4 separate regions of the Homo sapiens genome follow, and regions 2, 3 and 4 are each linked to region 1. Evidence: fine-mapped expression QTL. A gene starts in region 1. Each other region holds a variant in brackets. All regions are shown on one strand. Distances are between the middles of the regions.

The links. PIP is the estimated chance that this variant, and not a neighbour inherited with it, causes the effect.
Region 2: its variant is the best candidate, but not a certain one, in a credible set for the expression of SVIL in aorta (GTEx, PIP 0.72).
Region 3: its variant is the best candidate, but not a certain one, in a credible set for the expression of SVIL in whole blood (INTERVAL, PIP 0.88).
Region 4: its variant is the best candidate, but not a certain one, in a credible set for the expression of SVIL in whole blood (TOPMed, PIP 0.58).

The regions. Positions count from the first base shown.
Region 1 is chr10:29,632,708-29,637,858 of GRCh38, reverse strand. SVIL (supervillin) reads left to right here and starts at 2,888. Exons shown (of 38, transcript NM_021738.3): 1 at 2,888-3,439. RefSeq lists a silencer at 2,785-3,079.
Region 2 is chr10:29,875,229-29,880,379 of GRCh38, reverse strand. No RefSeq gene overlaps it. Among named protein-coding and RNA genes, the nearest start is that of JCAD, 180 kb to the left of the region's middle. The variant A/G (reference allele first, on the strand shown) is at 2,300.
Region 3 is chr10:29,801,234-29,806,384 of GRCh38, reverse strand. No RefSeq gene overlaps it. Among named protein-coding and RNA genes, the nearest start is that of SVIL, 170 kb to the right of the region's middle. The variant G/A (reference allele first, on the strand shown) is at 3,014.
Region 4 is chr10:29,454,459-29,459,609 of GRCh38, reverse strand. It overlaps SVIL (supervillin), which reads left to right. Exons shown (of 38, transcript NM_021738.3): 37 at 1,021-1,176; 38 at 1,277-2,272. The coding sequence ends at 1,363. The region is part of intron 2 of SVIL-AS1 (SVIL antisense RNA 1); the gene reads right to left. Among named protein-coding and RNA genes, the nearest start is that of SVIL-AS1, 48 kb to the right of the region's middle. The variant A/G (reference allele first, on the strand shown) is at 2,858.

The DNA.
Region 1 (5,151 bases):
TTGGCTTTCTGTCACTCAGCATAATTTAATTCCCTGGATTCTTATCCAGGTCGTGGAACGTACTAATAATTTGTTCCTTTTTATTGTTGAGTAGTATTCCATGGTATGGATGTACCACAATGAGGATTGGGTAGAAGCTCATTGCTTTTGCCTAGGGGTGTCTAATTGCTCTAGCACTGTTTGTTGAATGGCACAGAAATCAGTTTGGCATATTCATGTGGGCCTGTCTCTGGGTTCTCCAGTCTGTTCCACTGATCTATGTTATGTGTCTCTCTTTTTGCCAATGCTGTGTTGTCTTGATTACTGTAGTTATCCAGTAGGCCTTAATATGGGATAGATTCATTGCTCTAACTTTTTTCTTCTTTTGAGACGGAGTCTCACTCTGTGGCCCAGGCTGGAGTGCAGTGGCATGATCTTGGCTCACTGCAACCTCTGCCTCCCAGGATTGGGTTCAAGCGATGCTCCTGCCTTAGCCTCCCTAGTAACTGGGATTACAGGTGTGCACCACCACGCCTGGCTAATTTTTCTGTATTTTTGATAGAGACAGTGTTTCACCATGTTCATTAGGCTGGTCTCGAACTCCTGACCTCAGGTGATCCACCCGCCTCGGCCTACCAAAGTGCTGGGATTACAGGCATGAGCCACCACGCCCAGACTAACTTTTTTCTTCTTTTTCAAGATGGTTTTTAGCTATTCTAGGGCCTGTACCTTTACTATAAATTTTAGAATATCTGCCAAAAATCACTGTGAGGCCAGGCAGGGTGGCTCACACCTGTAATCCTAGCACTTAAGAAGGCCGAAGTGGGAGGACAGCTGGAGCCCAGGAGTTCAAGACAAGCCTGGCCAACCTAATGAGACTCCATCTCTACAAAAACTAAGAAATTAAAAAATTAGCCCAGTGTGGTGGTGCACATCTGTAGCCCCAGATATTCAGGAGGCTGAGGCAGGAGGACTGCCTCCTGGGGAGGTTGAGGCTGCAGTGAGCCATGATTGCACACCTCTACTCCAGCCTGGACAACAGAGCAAGACCATGTCTCAAAAAAACAAAACAAAACAAAACAAAACAAAAAAACCTTGCAAGATTTTGATAGGAATTTTGTTAATCTGTAGATCAGTTTGGGGACAATTGACATCTTTTGTGTGTTGATTTTTCTTCCAATTCATGATTATCATCATTGGAAAGAAGTGAGTATGATGAGTCTTCTAAGCCAGGCAGATAGCAAAAAAATTAGGAAAGTAAATGGATTGCACAGGAAGAATTAACTGGGATTTAAATAATCAAAGACAGAAAGGATATATAAAAGAAGTGACGAAGGAGATTTACCCTATTAGACTCCAGTGTATTAATCTAGGACAGTTTGGTTGCTATGGGGAAGCAGTGTGCAAAAACTTAAGAGGCACACAAAAGACTGATGTTTATTTTGTGGGAGTGAATCTTTTTTTAGGAAGGAAATAGCACTATTGTGGTAACAGTGATTCATTTTCTCCTCCTATCTTCTCTTTACAGAGAAGACCCAAATAGTGAACTGTTTCATGTAAGTTTTTATTTATTTTTGCCCTACTTTTCTCTAGGGAGGGGCTTACCACAGCTTATAAAAATACGTAAAACAAGATCAAATAAACTTTAAAATGAGGAAAAAGCCAATATGGTCCAAGGGAAAAGAAGATCAGGGTCAGGACTGAGATTAGGATGCAAAAGCCATGCTATGAAATTTTGTTTGTTTGTTATCTTGAGATGGGTAAAAAAAAAAAAAAACAGTTGACTGGGACAAATACCCCTAGCACAAAACAGTCATGAAGCCAATGTTTAATTATTATACCTGTCATCTTTTCACCTGGCCTCAGGACTGTCCTCTTAGGGAGAGGCATTGTTCTGTAGGGTTAATTAGTAACAGGAATTTAGATCCTGCTTTGAGAGGCCTCCTGTGCTGGCCGAAGCAGCTGGTGGTCTGAGAACCCTGACACCCAGAGGCATACCACTGGGAGGCCCCGCGCAGCACACAGCTTTTGCTGTACTCCAGCCCAAGTCTTATGGGGTTTGTGGTTTATACTGAAGTTGGTGCAGACAATTAAGACTCTCTGTTCTTGGTACCGACAGGGACAGAGACCTACAATTGTAAGTATTTTGTAAACAGGGTTGTGATATTTGTTTGAGTGTATTCAACATGTCAGTGGCCTTTTAATGTTTAAAAAAATGCATATGGCCATTTAAGAAGTGGTTGTGCTTCATAGTTAATATTTTTTTCATTAGGTTAGGTTCATCTGGTTTTTCAGTGAGGTGAGCTACCTGAGAGCCATAGGAAGATAGATCTTGCCAGTTCAGAGGACTGACTTTGGCTTTAAGAGAAAATATTTGTGTCATTTTCGAGAAAGTACTTCCAGCACAATGCTTTCTTCTGATGATTCATTTTCTACAGTTATTGGAAGTGGGAAGAAATCCACAGAGGTTACAGAATTTGTAAACTTGTAGAGACATGTGCCATTATATCATGCTGTTTCATAGATGTGTATGTCTGTTAGTTACTTTTCGGGCATTCATTGTATATATGTCTGTTACTTACTTTTGGGGTGTTCAGTGTCTGAGCTTTGTCAACGATTGTGTGCTCTTTTTTTAGCCTAAAAAAACTAAGTTAGAGAAATGTTTGCTCATCCAAATCTGTATTGTTGTAGCTTATTCAGTAGACTGCTGTTGTATTTTTAATTTCTCTATACAACAAGCTGAAAGACAGTGTGGACAACCTAATTGCATTTGAAGTAGCTGCTGGCCAGGCCTGCTGCAACAGCTGATGGGCTCCTCTGAATTTCCAGGGCTATTTCTGGTAGATGAGCTGGTATCAAGGCTCTCGAGTTCAGGCCATAAAAGGCCCGTCCCATGTGAAGTTGCTTCACTGCTCTGACTGCGTCCTCCCCAGGCTGAAGTGTCCTCAGGTTTCATGTGGATTTGCCCAGTAATGGATGGCTCCACCGAGGCCAGGTTGGGGAAGTTCAGCCTCGAGGACACTAGGGGACGAAAAACTTCAAAAAGAAGACTCTTTTTATTAATATTTTGGCGTTCTTTTTGGAGAGGAACTTTTGGGATGTAGCCTTTACCTGTTTCCTGAATTTGACATCCAAAAAGCCTTTTGGAAAACACCATTCTAAATTTATCCTGTTCTGAATCATCATCGCTTCTGATAGATGCAGTTGCTTGCTGACATCGTGATCTTTGATTTTGTACAACGCTATTTGGGCTAACTTTTGGGATTTTACTTTGTGCTTAGAATTTGAAAGTAGTATTCATTGGAAAGAGACTCCAAGAAAATACTCGAAGACATCAAAAGCTGGATTCGAGGGTATAACGTGTTTTGTTTTGTTTTTTAAATTAGAAAAATAAGGAATTGCAGTGTGATTTTCTTTCCCCCTTTAACTTAGAGGAACGAGGATTATACAGAAATTTGAAGTAAGTGAAAAATCTTCCTATAAATCTAAATGCAGTAGGTTTTTTTTTGTTGTTTTTGTTTTTGCTTTTTTTTAAGTGCCATCTGTCTGAGCATGTTTCCTGAGGATTTGTTGACTTCAGTCATTGGAAAATTCCTGCCAGCGTTTGCCAGTTACTGCAGCCATTCCTGTAGATACCCTTGGGCATATTTCTTGGGTTGAGAAGGATTGGACTTTTTTTTTTTTTTAAAGGATTTACTTTATGGTAGAGAAAGGTTTAATACTAAAAATTTGATTAATATAACTTAGTACATTCTGTCTAAATGTTAGCACTTAAAGTCTTGGAATTAAAGTATATTCACAATGCAACGTACTTTAATAATCGTAGCACAAGTATGGGGGTGGAGTTCAGAAGGGCAAGTTTTATTTCACTGCCATTATAATTCATGTAAAAATAGAAAATCACCAGTGATCCTTTTGCATAATCTTTGTTCTGAGGGTTCTTTGCCTTGGTACTCTCATTCTTCAGGGCTTGATTTCTAGAACTTGCGATGTTCCAGAATTTATGAGAAAAACCTCACTGTAGGTTCTAGAGTTTGAACTGCATTTTATTTTTAAATTCTCCAAGAAAAAATACTGCATCAGCCTTTTAAAGCCCTGGAGATTGCTATGGTCTCTTTGTAATTTAGCTCAGTGATTTGTTTCTGCTGAAAAACAGCAGTGAACTCTAGAACATAGAAGGCTTATTTGACGTGTTGCTTCTTTGAAAAAAAAAAAAGATTATTTCTTTATACCACATCAGATGGACAAGTACGGGCAGTCATTATTTTTACCAGGTAGGAAAACAGAGTATTTATAGAGAAGAACTTCATCGGTGAATACTGCGAGGGTTCTTCACCGGAGATAGTGTGGCAACCCTAGGGGGCGTTTGAAAATGCATGGGGGTGTTTCAGGTTTTCTCAATGACTCACTGGCATTTGGGAGGATGTGGTTAAGAATTGTAAATGCCCAATTTACATGGTGTAGGGGACAGTCCCATACAGCATTACCCTGGCCAAACTGCTGGTGGTATCCCCTGTTGAGTAAAACTGCAGGATATAAATTGTACCCTCTGTCTCCAAAGAAGAGCAGCCCAGTGCCAGGCAGATGTGTGCTGTCTCTTCTCACCAAAACCAGTGATGTCTTTTTTTTTTTTTTTTTTTTTTGAGATGGAGTCTCGTGCTGTCACCCAGGCTGGAGTGCAGTGGCACGATCTCGGCTCACTGCAACCTCCACCTCCCAGGTTCAAGTGACTCTCCTTGCCTCAACCTCCCAAGTAACTGGGATTACAGGCACCTGGCACCATATCCAGCTAATTTTTTTTTGTATTTTTAGTAGAGACGGGGTTTCACTATGTTGGCCAGGCTGATCTTGAACTCCTGACCTCGTGATCCGCCCACCTTGGGCTCCCAAAGTGCTGGGATTATAGGCGTGAGCCCCTGCACCCGGCACCCGGTGATGTCTTGAGGATCCAGGGCATCAAGTGTGCACTAGTGTCAGAGAATTTGTCTTACAATGGAAACTTTGGAGTCTATACTCTGTGTGTGTGTGTGTGTGTGTGTTAAAGATAATTTATTTGGTCACCTTGATCACTGGATGAGGCTGATGTTATACAAGCTATTGTAGTACATTAGGTGCCTTCCTGCCTACCTTTATTTAGTACTATTGGTGCATTTAATTTTGCCACATGCATAG
Region 2 (5,151 bases), 240 kb before region 1:
GCTCTGAGGCAAGCACTGTGCTAAGTATTTCACATGCATTAGCTCATTGGGTGCTCCCACTGCCTTCCATGAGAGAAGCAGCCTTCTGAGGTCAGAGCGGGCCGAAGATGTGCAGCCTGACTTCTCACCCAGGTCTTTCCAAAGTCTAGGGCAAAGCTCTAAGTACTTCCTGCCCCTTGCTCAGCAATCGCCCTGCTTATAGCAGAAGAGAATAGAGTGTCTAGAAAGCATCACACAAGTCTCTTCTCTGGAGAGAATCTCACAATGTGAGTCCTGGAAGAGATTGCCAAGCCCCCAGAAGAGCACCACCCTCATTACACAACTGGAAAGAGTGAATGCCAAATTGCCTAGCTCGAGGTCAGCCAACTCATTAATTGAAGACAGAAAGATAATGTGGAAATCAAGCAATGTTACCATTTTGTGATGGCTTCAGACAAAGATTTTACAAGGAAGATGTTGGAAACCGCGAGTGAAGTTTGGGACTGGGCATTATATATGAATTGAGTTTTTCCCTGCATTCGACAGGGTGGAACACTTGACAGGTGACTATGGGTAAGCGAGAAATACCAAGAATAAAATAATTTACACATTTGGGATGCAAGAGGCTTTGTAAAGGGACCACAGAACATCATCCATTCCAGACCTTTGAGATGAAGTGGAGCCAGCCACTGTGTAGGAGGCTTTGGAGTGGGGGTGTAGACATAGATGTCACCTTTCAGGTCCAGGCTGATGGACATAAAGAGACTCGTACTTTCTGTCTTAAAATATAATCAACAGGCCTAGTAGAAGGAAGCAGGGCTCTTGGAAGGAATGGCTGCTTCCAAATCTAGGTGATTCCTGCTGTGATGGTGAATCAGGAGGGAAGGCTGCTATTGGTTAGCCTGGTGGCTTTTCCCATCTTGTCTCCTGTCCTACCTTGTGAACAGCTGAGGTGACAGTAGTCCCATCTTAACTCAAGGTTTGGATGCTTATTCACAGGACCTGACCTTTGACTTCTGGGTAACCCCATAGCATGGTTGACTGTGGCCAGAAACCAAAGGTATGTGTTGAGACCAGAATCAGCCTGGATCCTTTCTGTGGCATCATCAGATGGGACCACTCAGATCCCATCTTCTGTAATCCTGGCACCTCACAGCAAGGTTGCTTAAAGCCAAAGGAAGTTCTCTAGACACCCACAGAAGAAATCCATGAAGTCTAGAAGCCAGTTAGGTCATGGTCCTAATTCTGGGCATGGTGTCTTGATTTCAGTCAGGACTCCTCTCCTCCCTAGCTGATCCATGGATGGATCATTCCTTAAGATCAAGCTCAAGTTCTTCCCATCCTGGCTCCTGGACCTTTTGCTGATAAGCCAGCCACATACATCTGCCAGTCTTCAGCTCCTACAACAAACACTGTCTCCCTGAATTGCACTGGCCTCTAGCCTGAGCTAGCTGAAAACATAACTTATTTATTTATTATTATTTATTATTATTATTATTATTATTATTATTATTATTGGCCGATCTCATTCCTCTGCTTAAACTTGAAGCTCCCTGAGGACTGGGACTTGATGCACGTAATTCCTGGTGTGTCTTATGTTAATACCTAGCAATGCTGTGAAAGGTCCCTGAGGATGATTTGTCAATGGCAACGAAGCCATCTGTGCCGTGGTTCCTGCGTCTTGCAAGAGGAAGCTCATGAAACGGGTTGTAAAGTGTCTGTCTCTCCCTAGAACATTAGCACCTGCAAGGCAGAGAAGGCTTTTTATAGATGATGTGGCATCTGTGAGAAGAGCCACGCCTTGGTGGCAGTGCTGTTTGGGGCTGGCAAGTGGGGCCTGGGCTAAGGGAGGAACAGGAAGCGCTTTGACTCTACCGCAGGTCCCGAAATTCCTCTTGTCCTTCTTGCCTGTGGTTAGGAGAAGTCATTTACAGCCATGTCAGGCCATCTCCTTCTGGCTTCCGACTGGAACACGCAGGCCGACTGTCCCCAGGGGAAACCGAGATTGCTGCTGGGGCTGTCAGGGCAAAGCTTTTGTTCCTTTAATAAACCGTGTGGTGGATCTCAATCCTGCTGACATTTGTCGGGAAAACATTTCTTAAAAAGTCCCAGTCAAGAAGGAATGCCGGCTGGACTCGAGCCACTTCTGAAAACACAAGCATCTACACAAAGCCCTTGTATTGTTCCTGTCCTGTGACCTCATGGGTTGGTCACAGGCTGGTCTGGGGAGACCAGGCGCTGAGGGAATGGACTGGGCAGGTCACCAGTGGCCTCTGGCCTTGAAGGATGGCCTAAGTGGGTGCTCCAGTTTGGGAGGAAA[A/G]ACATCTGAAATGTTCCCAGTACAGCTACATTAACATTATTTGGGTTTGTGGATGTGCAGTGAGCTCAGCGCTATGTTAGGTGACACAACTAAAAAAAATACTGATTAGTGCCAGGATAAGTATTTATGTGGCAGGGTTCCTTGGAGCATTCCTATGGAAAGAGACAGATGTAACCAAACATGGTCAAAAAAGGCTTGCGGAGTGTGTGAAGTCCACTAGGATAGTAAACTAAGTACAGGTGTGTGTGTGGTGGGGGAGAGGATGCATCCTAGGACCCGAGGATGGCATGAAATGTACAGGAGAAAATAGAGGCACTGTGTTGGGAGTACCGAGTCCTGTAAGAAGGTTTCACCAGCTGGGAACAGATGTGAGACCGGTAGCAGATGGGACTAGGAAGGCAGATTGTCTTCATAATGGGGCCTTGAATGCTAAGCAAAAGAGTGTGGTTCATAATCCCACAACCAAAAATGAACCGCTAGACGTTTTGGCAAGTGGGATGGAATGACAAGATTTTGGAGAGCTGACCCCCATGGAGGGGCCAGAGTTTCACAGCAGAGGGTTAGGGGCCTGCTGCCATGGTTCAGGCAGGACATTGGGAGAGCAGAGACACGCTGCCGGCCATGAGGAGGCTTAGCAAGGGAGAGGGACAGTAGAGGGGATCCATCTCGTAGTGGCCCTTCCTGCCTGGCAAATGTGTTTGCTCCTCATTCCAGGCAAATGAATTATCGGAAGAATGGTTCTAACAAAGCGTCACTTTAGTCTTGTTACTCTTCCATCAGGATCTGCCCCCACCCCCGGCTTCCCCGCTGCTGGCCGTAGAAAGCTCATATGCCTCAGCTTGCCTTCAAGGCCCACACGACAATGCTCATGCTTTGATAAAGCAGCAGAACTCTTGCTTCAAAGGAGATCTCACACAGAAACCCGAGATGCGGAGCAGATCACAGGAGAGCCACTATACTTGCCTCTAAACACAGCCCGGCAATCCTCCCGCTCCAATCGGCCCACCCTGCACACTTTGGTTTCCAATCCTTCACCCACCCTACCTCAGCCCCACCCGAGTAGCCTTAGAGACCCGTTGAAGAAAACCCCATGGCCTTAGGGAGCACAGTTTGAACCATTTCCCTACGAGGTCAGTTTCAGTCTGCCTTCTCTCCTGCTATTTTTCATCCCCATCAGAGCTCTCAACCCTCCACCCCAAACACACCTTGAACCTTGGCCTTCTGTTGTTATTGCTTGTCCTGAAGCCCTGACAAGATGTCCTGATAGCATCTCAAGGGCTTCCAGATGTCACTGGTCACCAGGCCAGCCCATGCCTCTCCCCTGCCACCATGTGCAGCAGCAGCAACCATGATTTACTGAACACTTAATATATCCATTTTATAGAGATCATCTCATTTAATCCTCAAACCAACGCACCCAGATAAGTATTATTATTTTCTCACTTTACAGAGCAAGAACTTAAGTATCAAGAGGTTAAGTAACATACTCCAGGTCACGCAGGTAGGAAGCTGCTGAACCAAGATCCAAACCCAGGCAGTCTGACTCAAGAAGCTCCATTCTCAGTCAGTTCCCTTTACAGCCTCCCCAAACATATACGTGTAGACTGGCTGATGGATTCATGAACTTTATGCCTGAGGGAATGCGGGTAACGAAAGAGAACCTTCACTCGTTCATCCAGCATACACGTATTGCATTCTTAGTATGCGACAAGCCCTGGGCCAGGCCCTGTGGAGATGGTGGTTGAGAGCGGTGGACACTACCCCTGTTCCTTTGGACCTTGAAGTTCAGGAAAAGAGGGCAAAGATGACTCTGAGTTCGCCAGTGTGAGTAATTCAGAGATGAAATGATAGCTCCATGGGGACAGACGTCAGGAGAGGGAGTCAACGTGGAGGCAGGAAATTGATCTTGGCAGGTGGTCTGTGGAGCTTCAGGTGCCAGGTTGAAGCAAATTTAACAAGTGGAATTGTTCAGAAGGTGATGGAAATACTGGCTGGGAACTGAGAGAGAGACAGTGTGGGAGATGTGGACTGGGGAATTGCATAAATAATGTTGACAGCTGAAGATAGGAGAATAAGCCAAGATTAACATGGAGAAAATTAAGTCTAGAGACAAGAGCCAAGCCTTGGAGAACACCCCAGAGAGAATGGACCCCCCTCGAGAGAAGACATGGCCACAGGGAGTGCAGGAAGCCCAGGCACTCGGGGGTCTGAAGGAGAGAAGGCGCTAACAGGGCCAAGGGTCTTGGGAAGAGCAACGAAAAAGAATACTGGAGAAGTTTCTTTGGTTGGCCTAAAGGAAGTTCTTGTGATTTCCAAGAGCACAGTTTCAGTAGAGGGGTGAGGGTAAATTACAGATTATAGGAGATTTAGGGAGAAAACGGGTGATGAGGAAAAGCCATTTACTAAATACACTTCACATGGAAAAGCTGGCATTACTAGGGAGCGAGAATGGGCAGTTAATGGAAAAAAAATGCCGAACAAAACCAGTTTTATGGATTATGTGACCTGGACCAAATATAAATATGTTCAAATGCGACAGTCCCTGGACTTAAAATAGAGTGGTAAAGCCAAGCCAGCTGAAAGAAGACCTCCAGAGGTGACCTCCCTGAATCCCAGAAGATCCACCCCAGATGAATGGTGGTCTCGTCTCTCTGTTTCCTGTTTGGGATCACGACTTCATTTGGTTCAGCAGATTCTTTCTTATTTTTATAATTAAAATTTTTTGAAATAAAAGAAACTACCCAGTTAATCCCCCAAATGTATTTTTTTCCTTGGGGAAACATTTACATTCTTAGGACCCCAAATGCTAAGCCAATAAAAGCAGCAGCAGAAACCATTTTTCATTATTATCC
Region 3 (5,151 bases), 170 kb before region 1:
CTGAACCCATGAGCAGCTCTCTTCCAATGAAGTTGGCTCCGTGGGGAAGGAACTGGCCTTGTCTCAACCCCCAGACTCAGGGGATCCTTCCTTCTTGCTCCCATTCTTGTAGCCACAGCTCCTGAGTGCAGTGCGGGTCAGGCCCTCTTCAAGGGATTCGTGTGAGTTCATCCTGGCAGGAGCCCTCTGAGGTTGGTACTATCAATCCTAATTTCTCAGATGGGGAAACTGAGGCATGGAACAATTAAGGAACTTTCCCACAGCTGCAGACCTCATGGGCAGCAAGGCCAGGGGTTGACCGAGTGGTCTGGCCTGGGATCTAGGGCTCCCCACCCTGCCTCACCCCTGTCCCCTGCCCCTGTTTCCAGGGACCTGCTGGAGGTCTCCTGGGATAAGGTGACATTGCCTCTCTCTTCCACGGCCCCCAATCATCTTCCTTCTTGTGTTTCGCACGGACCTTCCTCCCCTGAGGCTGAATATGGGATTCCTGTGAGATTTTCTCAGCATGAGGGCCTCGGAGAAGATATGGACCACAAAAAGTGTGGACAGTAAACTGATGTCCCTGCAGAATGCACCCAGCAAGCTTCTTCCCTTCCTAGACCTTTCAGAGAGTCCCAAAATGTTTCTTTTGGCATTATGCTTAATTTGGGGTCAAAATTGAGAGACACTAGGGTAAAAGCGGCTTTCTCTGATTATCATGGTTAGGCAATGCCTATGGCATTGACAGTAGGGTGATTTTTTTATCCTGCCCCTCAAATCTTGGCATGCTGTAGAACTCTGATGAAATTTAATATCAAGGGAAGCCTTGAAGCAGAAAACTAGGTTATTAAAGGGCAGCCTTGGGGTGGTGTGGCAGACACTGTGACATGCCTTCTATATCTCCCTTCATGGACAGACTTGTTGCCCCCACCACTGGGCATGCTGGTGGCTGGGTGTCAGCTGTCAGCTGCCCCAACTCAGGACTCATCTTAGCTGAAGAGCGGCTTTACCCTAAACCACAGAGGGATACAGGCCTGACCAGCTTGGTCCAACACTGGAGAACATTCTAGCTCCAGGGCTCCCCACAGGGCTGCCCAAGGCCATCATCAGATTTCATCACAGTTTGACTTCTCCCTCGCACTCTCCTGCCTTCTGTCTCCCTGCCACGGGAGTTGATCTCAAGCACACGCCTCAGACACATGCTACACACTAAACTCTGCTTCAGAGGCCACCACTCCAAGGGCATGAAGCATTGGGACAGCCCCAGTGGTGACAGGCAGTGTATTAGTCCGTTTTCACGCTGTTGATAAAGACATATCTGAGAGTGGGTAATTTATAAAGAAAAAGAGGTTTAATTGACTCACAGTCCCACATGGCTGGGGAGGCCTCACAATCATGGCAGAAGGTGAAAGGCACATCTTACATGGTGGCAGACAAGGGAGAAAATGAGACCCAAGCAAAAGGGGAAACCTCTTATAAAAATCAGATCTCAAGAGACTTACTCACTACCACAAGAACAGTATGGGGGAAACTGCCCCCATATTCAATTATCTCCCACTGGGTCCCTCCCACAACACTTGGGAATTATGGAAGTTACAATTCAAGGTGAGATTTGGGTGAGGACGCAGCCAAACCTTATCAGGCAGGATGTGTGAAGTAGGTAGCAGCCAGCGCTACCACAGGTGGGTGGGTGTGTGGGTTTTTCTCTCTGCAGGGATGCTCTGCTGAGAGGGAGGATGGGGACCTAAATCCAGCCTGTTCTCCACTAACCACATGCTGAGCCCTGTGTGGGGGCTGCACCTGCCAGGAGAAAGCACGCCTTTTGCAATTGCACCACAATACTGTACAAACTCTCACAGTCCTGGCAGCAGCCCTCCTGTCTTTGCTTTGGAGAAATAGTGAGAAGCTTAAGAGAAGTGAATTTTCTCAGATTCCCTGTGGCCTTTCTGGTTCCAGCCCCTGCAGCATGCAGCACAGGGAAGTGCAGCTGTAGCCTAGTTGTTTTTGCTTCACTGGATACCCTGGGCCCCAGGGCAAAGAGCCAACATATTATGCCCTCTGAGTCACAGAATCAAAACAGGATTCTCTGTTTCCAGAACTTAGTCATGGTGGCACTGAGGACATTTAAGGAAGACAAACATTAAGCGTCACATTGTATATCCTCAAAAGCTCTCTGCTTCTTGCATTTTTATTTGACTCCAGAGTATTTCCTCACTTTTCTGTACCCAACTGTACCCTCTGGCACCAACCAGAGACTTTGAAACCCTCAGTTTCAGCCATCATCAGTGAGGACAGAGGACGTCTGAAACCCAGACCATTTCCTGAGCTGCAATCACAAAGTTCTTTATATAATTACATATGTGGCACTGACTTCAGTTTCTATCATTGAGAGCTTCTTCCATGAGACTCAAACCACTGGTCACAGGTAAGCAAAAAGAAATGCATTTCCTTTGCCAACAACAGCTGCCTATGCCCACCTAATAATCACTTCTAGTTGAAGATTACCTTCTGGTAACTCTCCAGACAGACCCCAGGAAGCAGTTGGTTGGAGAGGAACCCTTCAAGTTGAAACTGGGTTTCAGCGTGTCCAGATGACTCATGTAAATACACAAGCTCTGAGGCATCTCCCCGACCCCCAACAAAAATCTCCTCAATCACTCAGTTTGCTTTCCACTCATTTCCTGCCCCTTTCCCTTCCTCTACTTCCTCTTTTTCTACTTCTTTCGCCTTCTTTCCCCATTCTGACAGAGGAAGACTGATCAAAGCTTTGTTTGTTATTTATTTATACACAGTCGTGTTCTAGAAGGGCTTCTTGAAAGAGTGCATAAAACTCAACTAGGTTGTATAAGGGTAAAGTAGGTCAAAAGGAAAAGGACAAACACGTGCTATAAAAATGCATGGCCCAGGAATAAGACAAAGAATGACCAATACAAGCCAAGCCAAGCTCTGGTGCTCCATGTTTCTGTGAGCCAGAGGCACGTTACAGCTGTGGATGAGCACCTCTGTGATTGGTTTCCCTTCCTCTGCCGATCAC[G/A]TCATCGTCCAATGCCATGGCTGTAAACACTGTTTGCACTGATGACTCTTATAGCCAAGACTGTACCCATTATTTAGAAATCTAATGACAGATGTTATTAAGGGCTGCAAGGCACCCTATGAAAAGGCTACACTTACCACATTCCCTTGCAACCGTGTAATTAAGTTCTGAACAATGACATGTCAGACAGCATGTAAAGAAGGCTCCTCACTCACACCTGTAAGCCCTGCACTTTGAGAGGCCAAGGCAGGCAAATCTCTTGAGCTCAGGAGTTCGAGACCAGCCTGGGCAACATAGCAAAACCTCATCTCTACAAAAAATACAAGAATTAGCCAGGTGTGGTGGTGTGCACCTGTAGTCTTGGCTACTTAGGGGGCTGAGGCAGCAGGATCACTTGAGCCCATGAGGTCAAGGCTGCAGTGAGCTGTGTTCACAACACTGCACTCCAGCCTGGGCAACAGAGGAAAACCCTGTCTTCAAAAAAAAAAAAGAAAAAAAAAGAAGGCTCTTCAAAGGGACCTGCAGCTGCAGCTTTGATCCTTGCCACAGTCTTCCTACTACCTGGGATGTGGAATTAATGATAAAAGCTCCATAGTCCCTACTTACTGGACCATGGGTAACCTTAAGGGTGGCAGACACATGCTGAGGATGATAAAGCTAAAAGACAAGTGCCTGCTTCCTTGCCAATACTGGACCCCCCCCCCCACCCCATATCAGCCCCTACTTGCCTAGCTCCAGATTTTCATTAAGTGGAAAAGAAGAAAAACCTGGGCTTATGTAAATCACTGATATTTAGGATTGTTTGTTATGTGTAGCCATCTGTATTAATCTGTTTTCACCCTGCTGATAAAGACATAACTGAGACTGGGAAGAAAAAGAGGTTTAATTGGACTTACAGTTCCACTTGGCTGGGGAGGCCTCAGAATCATGGTGGGAGGCAAAAGGCACTTCTTGCATGGCAGTGGCAAGAGAAAATGAGGAAGCAAAAGCAGAAAGCCCTGATAAACCCTTCAGACCTCATGAGACTTATTCACTATCGTGAGAATAGCATGGGAAAGACCGGCCTCCACAATTTAATTTGCTCCTCCTGGGTCCCTACTAAAACACGTGAGAATTTAGAGATACACTACAATTCAAGTTGAGATTTGGGTAGGGACACAACCAAACCATGTCACCATCTAATTCTAAATCATTCTTTCTCAAATTTTCATCTGTAACAATAACCTTTTCAGCTACATATTTGAAGTTTCTACTTGAGTGTTGAATTGGAGTCTTAAACTGAACAGGATCCAGACAGAACACTTGATCTTTTTCTCCCCTTTCTTCCCCAAACTTGGTCCTTCCAGAATCTTCCCCCTCTGAACTAAATGGTACCCCCATATGCCCAGTTGCTCAGGACAAACACCAAGGAGTCATTCTTGATTCTGTTTTACTTCATTCCCACACATCAGCAAGTCCTATGGGCTCCACCTCCAAAATACACCCCACACCCATCACCTCTCACCATTTCCCAGGATCTCACCATTGTAGCCGCTGTCATCTTTCACCTGGGGTATCTCAGCAGCCTTCCAGCTGCTCTGATTACACTCATCTCACTGAAATCCTCCCCCCACAGTGGCCAGAGTGATCTTCCAGAAAATGTAAATCAGATCATATCACTCGTCTGCTTAAATCCTCCAATGCCTCCCACTGAAGTGAGGATAAAATCCAAACTACTATGGCTCACAAAACTCCAAGTGAGCCAGTCCCTACTACCCATTACCCTACTTTTTCATGAGCTAGACTCCTAGCCCTTCTTGCCTTTCTTACTTGATATAGTTTGGATGTTTGTTGCCTCCAAATCTCATGTTGAAATGTAATCCCTGGCCACATGTGGTGGCTCATGCCTGTAATCCTAGCACTTTGGGAGGCAGGAGTGGAAGGATCCCCTGAGCCCAGGAGTTTGAGACCAGCTTGGACAACATGGCAAAACCCCATATCTACAAAAAAAAAAAAAATTATCCAGGTGTGGTGATGCATGCCTATAGTCCCAGTAACTCAAGAGGCTAAGGTGGGAGGATTGCTTGAGCCTAGAGTTTCCAGGCTACAGTGAGCTTTGATCGCACCATTGCACTCCAGCATGGATGACAGAATGAGAC
Region 4 (5,151 bases), 180 kb after region 1:
TGCTCCAGAATATTCTAGGTGCATTTTCTGACCTTCTTTTTCTATTGCAGATTAAGAAATGGGGCCAGGGGAGGGAAGGGGGGTGTGATTTCTTTTCAGGTTATTTTTTAATATTTATTTTTAAACAAATTCCATTATTTGGAGGCTTCTGGTGTTTAGACTTCAAATCTACTAATCTTAGTCCATAATTCACTCATGGGACAGTCCCTAAACATTTTTCCAGAGACAGTTCTGAGACAGGGTTTGTTTAAAACTCTGTGACAAGGTGAGAAAAGATCTATAAGTCAGAGAAACAAGACTCCATCATCTCTACAAAAAAATTTTTTAAATTATTAGGTGCGCGTGGTGGCACATGCCAATAGTGCCAGCTACTCAGGAGGCTTGAGGTGGGAGGACTGCTTGAGTCCAGGAGTTTAAGGCTGCAGAGAGCTATGATTGAGCCACTGCCCTCCAGCCTGGGTTACAGTGAGACACTGTCTCTAAAAAATAACAAAATTTGGGGTCAAGTGTGGTGGTTCACACCTGTAATCCCAGCAGGAGGATCGCTTGAGGCCAGAAGTTTGAGACCAGCCTAAGCAGTATAGCAAGACCCAGTCTCTACAAAAAAAAAAAAAAAAATGGAAAAGGAAAAATAAATTAGCCAGGCCTGGTGATGCATACTCATAGTCCCAGTTACTCAGGAGGCTGAGGCAGGAGGATCACTTGAGCCCAGGAGCTGGAGGCTGCAGTGAGCTATGATTGCACCACTGCACTCCAGCCTGAGTAGCAGAGTGAGACCTTGTCTCAAAAAATACCATTTTTTAATTTAAAATTTAAAAATTTTAAAAATTAAAAGTCCAGACAACTGCAGGGCTTTGGGCGATCCCTTTTCTTTCAGAGCCATTTCCTCCTCAGTGATATGGAACTATGCATCCTCAGGCAGTATGCAGGTGGCACAGGGCTGTGTGTCTGTAAGCACTTAATAAAACAAGTTCAAATGTAGGACACGAGCTCTCCTCTCTGCCCCCTCCTCTTCTCTAGGACACGGAAGTTTCCAATCAGATCACCCTCGTGGAAGACGTCTTAGCCAAGCTCTGTAAAACCATTTACCCGCTGGCCGACCTCCTGGCCAGGCCACTCCCGGAGGGGGTCGATCCTCTGAAGCTTGAGATCTATCTCACCGACGAAGACTTCGAGGTAAGCGGTTCTTCCGGTGGGGTGGGGATGGGAGTAAAACAACACACGCACGCCCGGCTCCTTTCACTGAGCCGCGGGGCGCTTCTCCCAATGTTTCCAGTTTGCACTAGACATGACGAGGGATGAATACAACGCCCTGCCCGCCTGGAAGCAGGTGAACCTGAAGAAAGCAAAAGGCCTGTTCTGAGTGGGGAGACGCCAGAGGAGCCTCACGGTCACGTCCAACAACACCACTGCACCAGGGAAATGGATATATATTTTTGGACTGGTGTTTTTCACAAAGTATTTTTCAATCAGAGTTTTCAGAACCTGACATTGTTAAAGATACTGCTTGTCCCGGAGTTGTGTATTTTGTAAATGTTCAAGGGAACTGTTTGGAAACTTCTTTCCACCATTCAGGAGGTTATCAGAATTAATAAAAGTATCTGTTATGTGCACTTAAGCCGCAGCTGCTATAGATAGCACTGCCTTCTTGTTCCAGCTAGGCAATGCCTTTTTTTTTTTTTTTTGAAGCAGTTCTCTTTATAAAGTGTTATTTTGATAGTTTGTGGATTCTAAAATATATATATATTTATATAAACACCATATAAGTCAAATATGTATTTAACAAAGCAATATGTATTCATTCACTTTCAAGATTTGTTTTGGTGTCAAAATAACATGAAAAGGTAGATGGAGTTGCTTCTGTTGAATTAGCTCTGCCACCAATATGTATCTTCATACACGTTTGGAAATGTTTCCTGCAGCATTAGGTATGACTTGTTCTGAGTACTGCTTCCGGTGCTAAAATGAACAAAGAATTTGTACTTAATGGCATGGACTCTGGAGAATCTATGCGAATCAACCTTTCTACCTTAATATCTCCCCAAAAATGTATAGTGCCTTGTTTTTATGTACAGTTTATATACAGAAAAGTTTGCTCTGCATTTTTGATGATGGTTTGGAACATTATCTACAATTTTACTCTCAAATAGTCAAAATAAAAACATCTCAATTTCTAATACCGGTTGTAAACAGTACACATGTCATTTTGTGATATAGGACTCCCAAATAAAAGTATCAGAATAAACACAACAATTAACTGGTTCACATTGAATTCCAAGCATGTTCCTTTCTGGAATTTTTTTTTTTTTTGGTAAATATTAACATAGCACCAAATTTTGTAATTAAGTATAAATGACTATACATTTGAATTTAGTTTAGGGCAAGATTTTATACAAGGTCATAAGATTAAATACAGAGTTATTTGCCCCATAAAATTAGTACTCAGTACTATAATGAAGACATACTTTTGCAAATCATCATTCAGCAGAAGTTCTTTATCCCACAGCTATATCTATCTACAATTTCAATTTTAGGATCTCAATGCCCTTTAAAAAATTGTATGGGCCAGGCGAGGTGGCCCACACCTGTAATCCCGGCACTCTGGGAGGCTGAGGCAGGCGGATCACCTGAGACCAGGAGTTCAACAGCAGCCTGGCCAACATGTTGAAACCCAGTCTCTACTAAAAATACAAAAATTAGGCATGGTGGCACATGCCTGTAATCCCAGCTACTCAAGAGGCTGAAGAAGGAGAATCATTTGAAACTGGGAGGCGGAGGTTGCAGTGAGCCAAGATCGCGCCATTGCACTACAGCCTGGGTGACAAGAGTGGGACTCCATTTCAAAAAAAAAAAAATT[A/G]TATGGATAAGACATCTAGAAAACTTAAAAAATGAGTTAGAAAACTCCTCACAAGCTCCCATGTTCTTAAATCCATGGTTTTGTGAACATATTCTACAGACCTACTCTGAATTGTCATAGCCCTTCCCCACTCCCTGTTAGTCTAATTTAACACATCCAGTCACAGCACATTTGCCTGAAACTTCAGGACTTACAGGCCCCATCCTGGGACCGCACCAGGGTAGAAACCTATAACCTGCTCCTGGTCTCACCATTTTATGATTTTTATGATATTGGGTCATCACTGAACTTTTCTACCTTGATTTCCTTTAAAAGGAGACACTCCTAGCTATCCTGCCTGCATCACAAGATTCCGAGCAAGGAACTAGTGGAAGCTCTTTGAAAATCGCCAAGTGCTAGATACCTGCCAGTATTAAGATTATTGTGATGGTAGTTAAAATGGGAAAGCAGGGGGGTTAAGTTAGGGAGTGTTGTCATGCACCTAGAAATGATGGATTAAATCAAAGCAAGGAGACGAAAAAGAAGAGAGGTTCAAAGTCCATGTTCCATAGATAACACGCAAGAGGTATGGAGAAAGGTTCCTAGAGTCACTAGGGCAACCTGAGGGTCAGAAAGAGGCAGGATTGCAACCTCTGCAGCAGGTTCCAGATATCACCTGAATCTTTAGATACCCAGGAAGGAGCTTGAGTTGCTACAGGAACTACCAGTGGAGAGCCGCTGTAATGAATAAATAAGACAGATGTCCTCATTAATATTCATTAACACCAGATTTTCCCAAAGTCCTTTAAAACTGTGTCTATCCACTTGTATTAAACATTGGCAACCAGGTGCGGTGGCTCATGCCTGTAATCCCAGCACTTTGGGAGGCCAAGGCAGGTGGATCACTTGAGGTCAGGAGTTTGAGACCAGCCTGACCAACATGGCAAAACCCTGTCTCTACTAAAAATACAAAAATTAGCTGGGTGTGGTGGCGCACACCTGTAATCCCAGCTACTTGGGAGGCTGAGGCATGAGAATCGCTTGAGCCTGGGAGGCCGATGTTGCAGTGAGCCGAGATTGCACCACTACACTCCAGCCTGGGCAATACAGTGAGACTCTGTCTCAAAAAAAACACAAAAAAACAAAAACCACTGTCCCCCGACAAAACGTGCTGTCTGTCTGCTTCTCGCCACTTCTTGGTGAATAAGACACCCCAGCTTGGAGAGCCAGTATACTTTTTGCCTCTTTTCCTCTAAATTGTTTCCTGCATCTCTTTCCTGCTTATAGAACCAGATCCTATTTTCCATGGTTTTTTCTGATCCTTTTCCTTCCATAACTGCAAACTTTGACCTTTGTACACTGGGAAGGGACCTAGCTGAAACACTTGAATTGCTAAACCTTAAAGTCTCAGCCCAGGAATTGACACTGGTGCTTGGGGCTTTTCTCCACAGTCATCCAAACTCAAACCCCCGCTCTCACTAAATGCATCAGGGGCAGGGAAGTGCGATGTCCTGAATTTGCTGTCCTTGAACTAAGAGACTCAAGAGAGGGGTGGGTGTTTGGATTGAGATCGATATCAGAGGTGCCGCGGGGCAGATGGGATGTTGAGCGTGTTCTGTAGCTTTGGATGAACTGTGCGAATATGAGCCACTTCTAGAGTGGGACAATCCTGCCTCTTTGTTCCCAAATCCGAGGAGGGGAAAGGCTGCTGTGAGCCCACTTCTTTCTCTCCTACTTTACATTTCCTGCCCTGCTATTAGAATTCCCATTTTGGTAAAAGGAAACGTATTCCAGAAACAGTTCCAGAATTCATTTTGGTCCTTTGGTTTTGTTTTTTTTATTATAAAATTAGCCGTGTGTGTCCACTCAGAAACCTGGACACAGATGTTCATAGTGGCATTATTCATAATAGCCCAGACCTGTAAACAATCCACATGACCGTCAACTGAGAAACAGAAAAACAAAATGCAGGACCTCCATGCGATGGCGTCCTCCCCGACAGCAAAGGGACAGATATTCCTGCGTATACATGACGTACACCTGATACTCACTACAACATGCATACGCCTCAAAAGCATTAAGTGAAAGAAGCCAGATGCAAAAGGCCACATATTGTTTGATTCTTTTTATATGAAACTTCCCATAAAGGCAAATCTGTGCAAACAGCAAGATCAACAGTAGCTGAGGTTGGAGATGGGAGTGGTGGTTAACTGCAAATGGCATGAATGATCTTTTTGGAGTAATGGAAATGTCTCAAAACTGGATTGTGGTGATGATTGCACAACTCTATAAAGGTATTAAAGATTTTTGAGGCC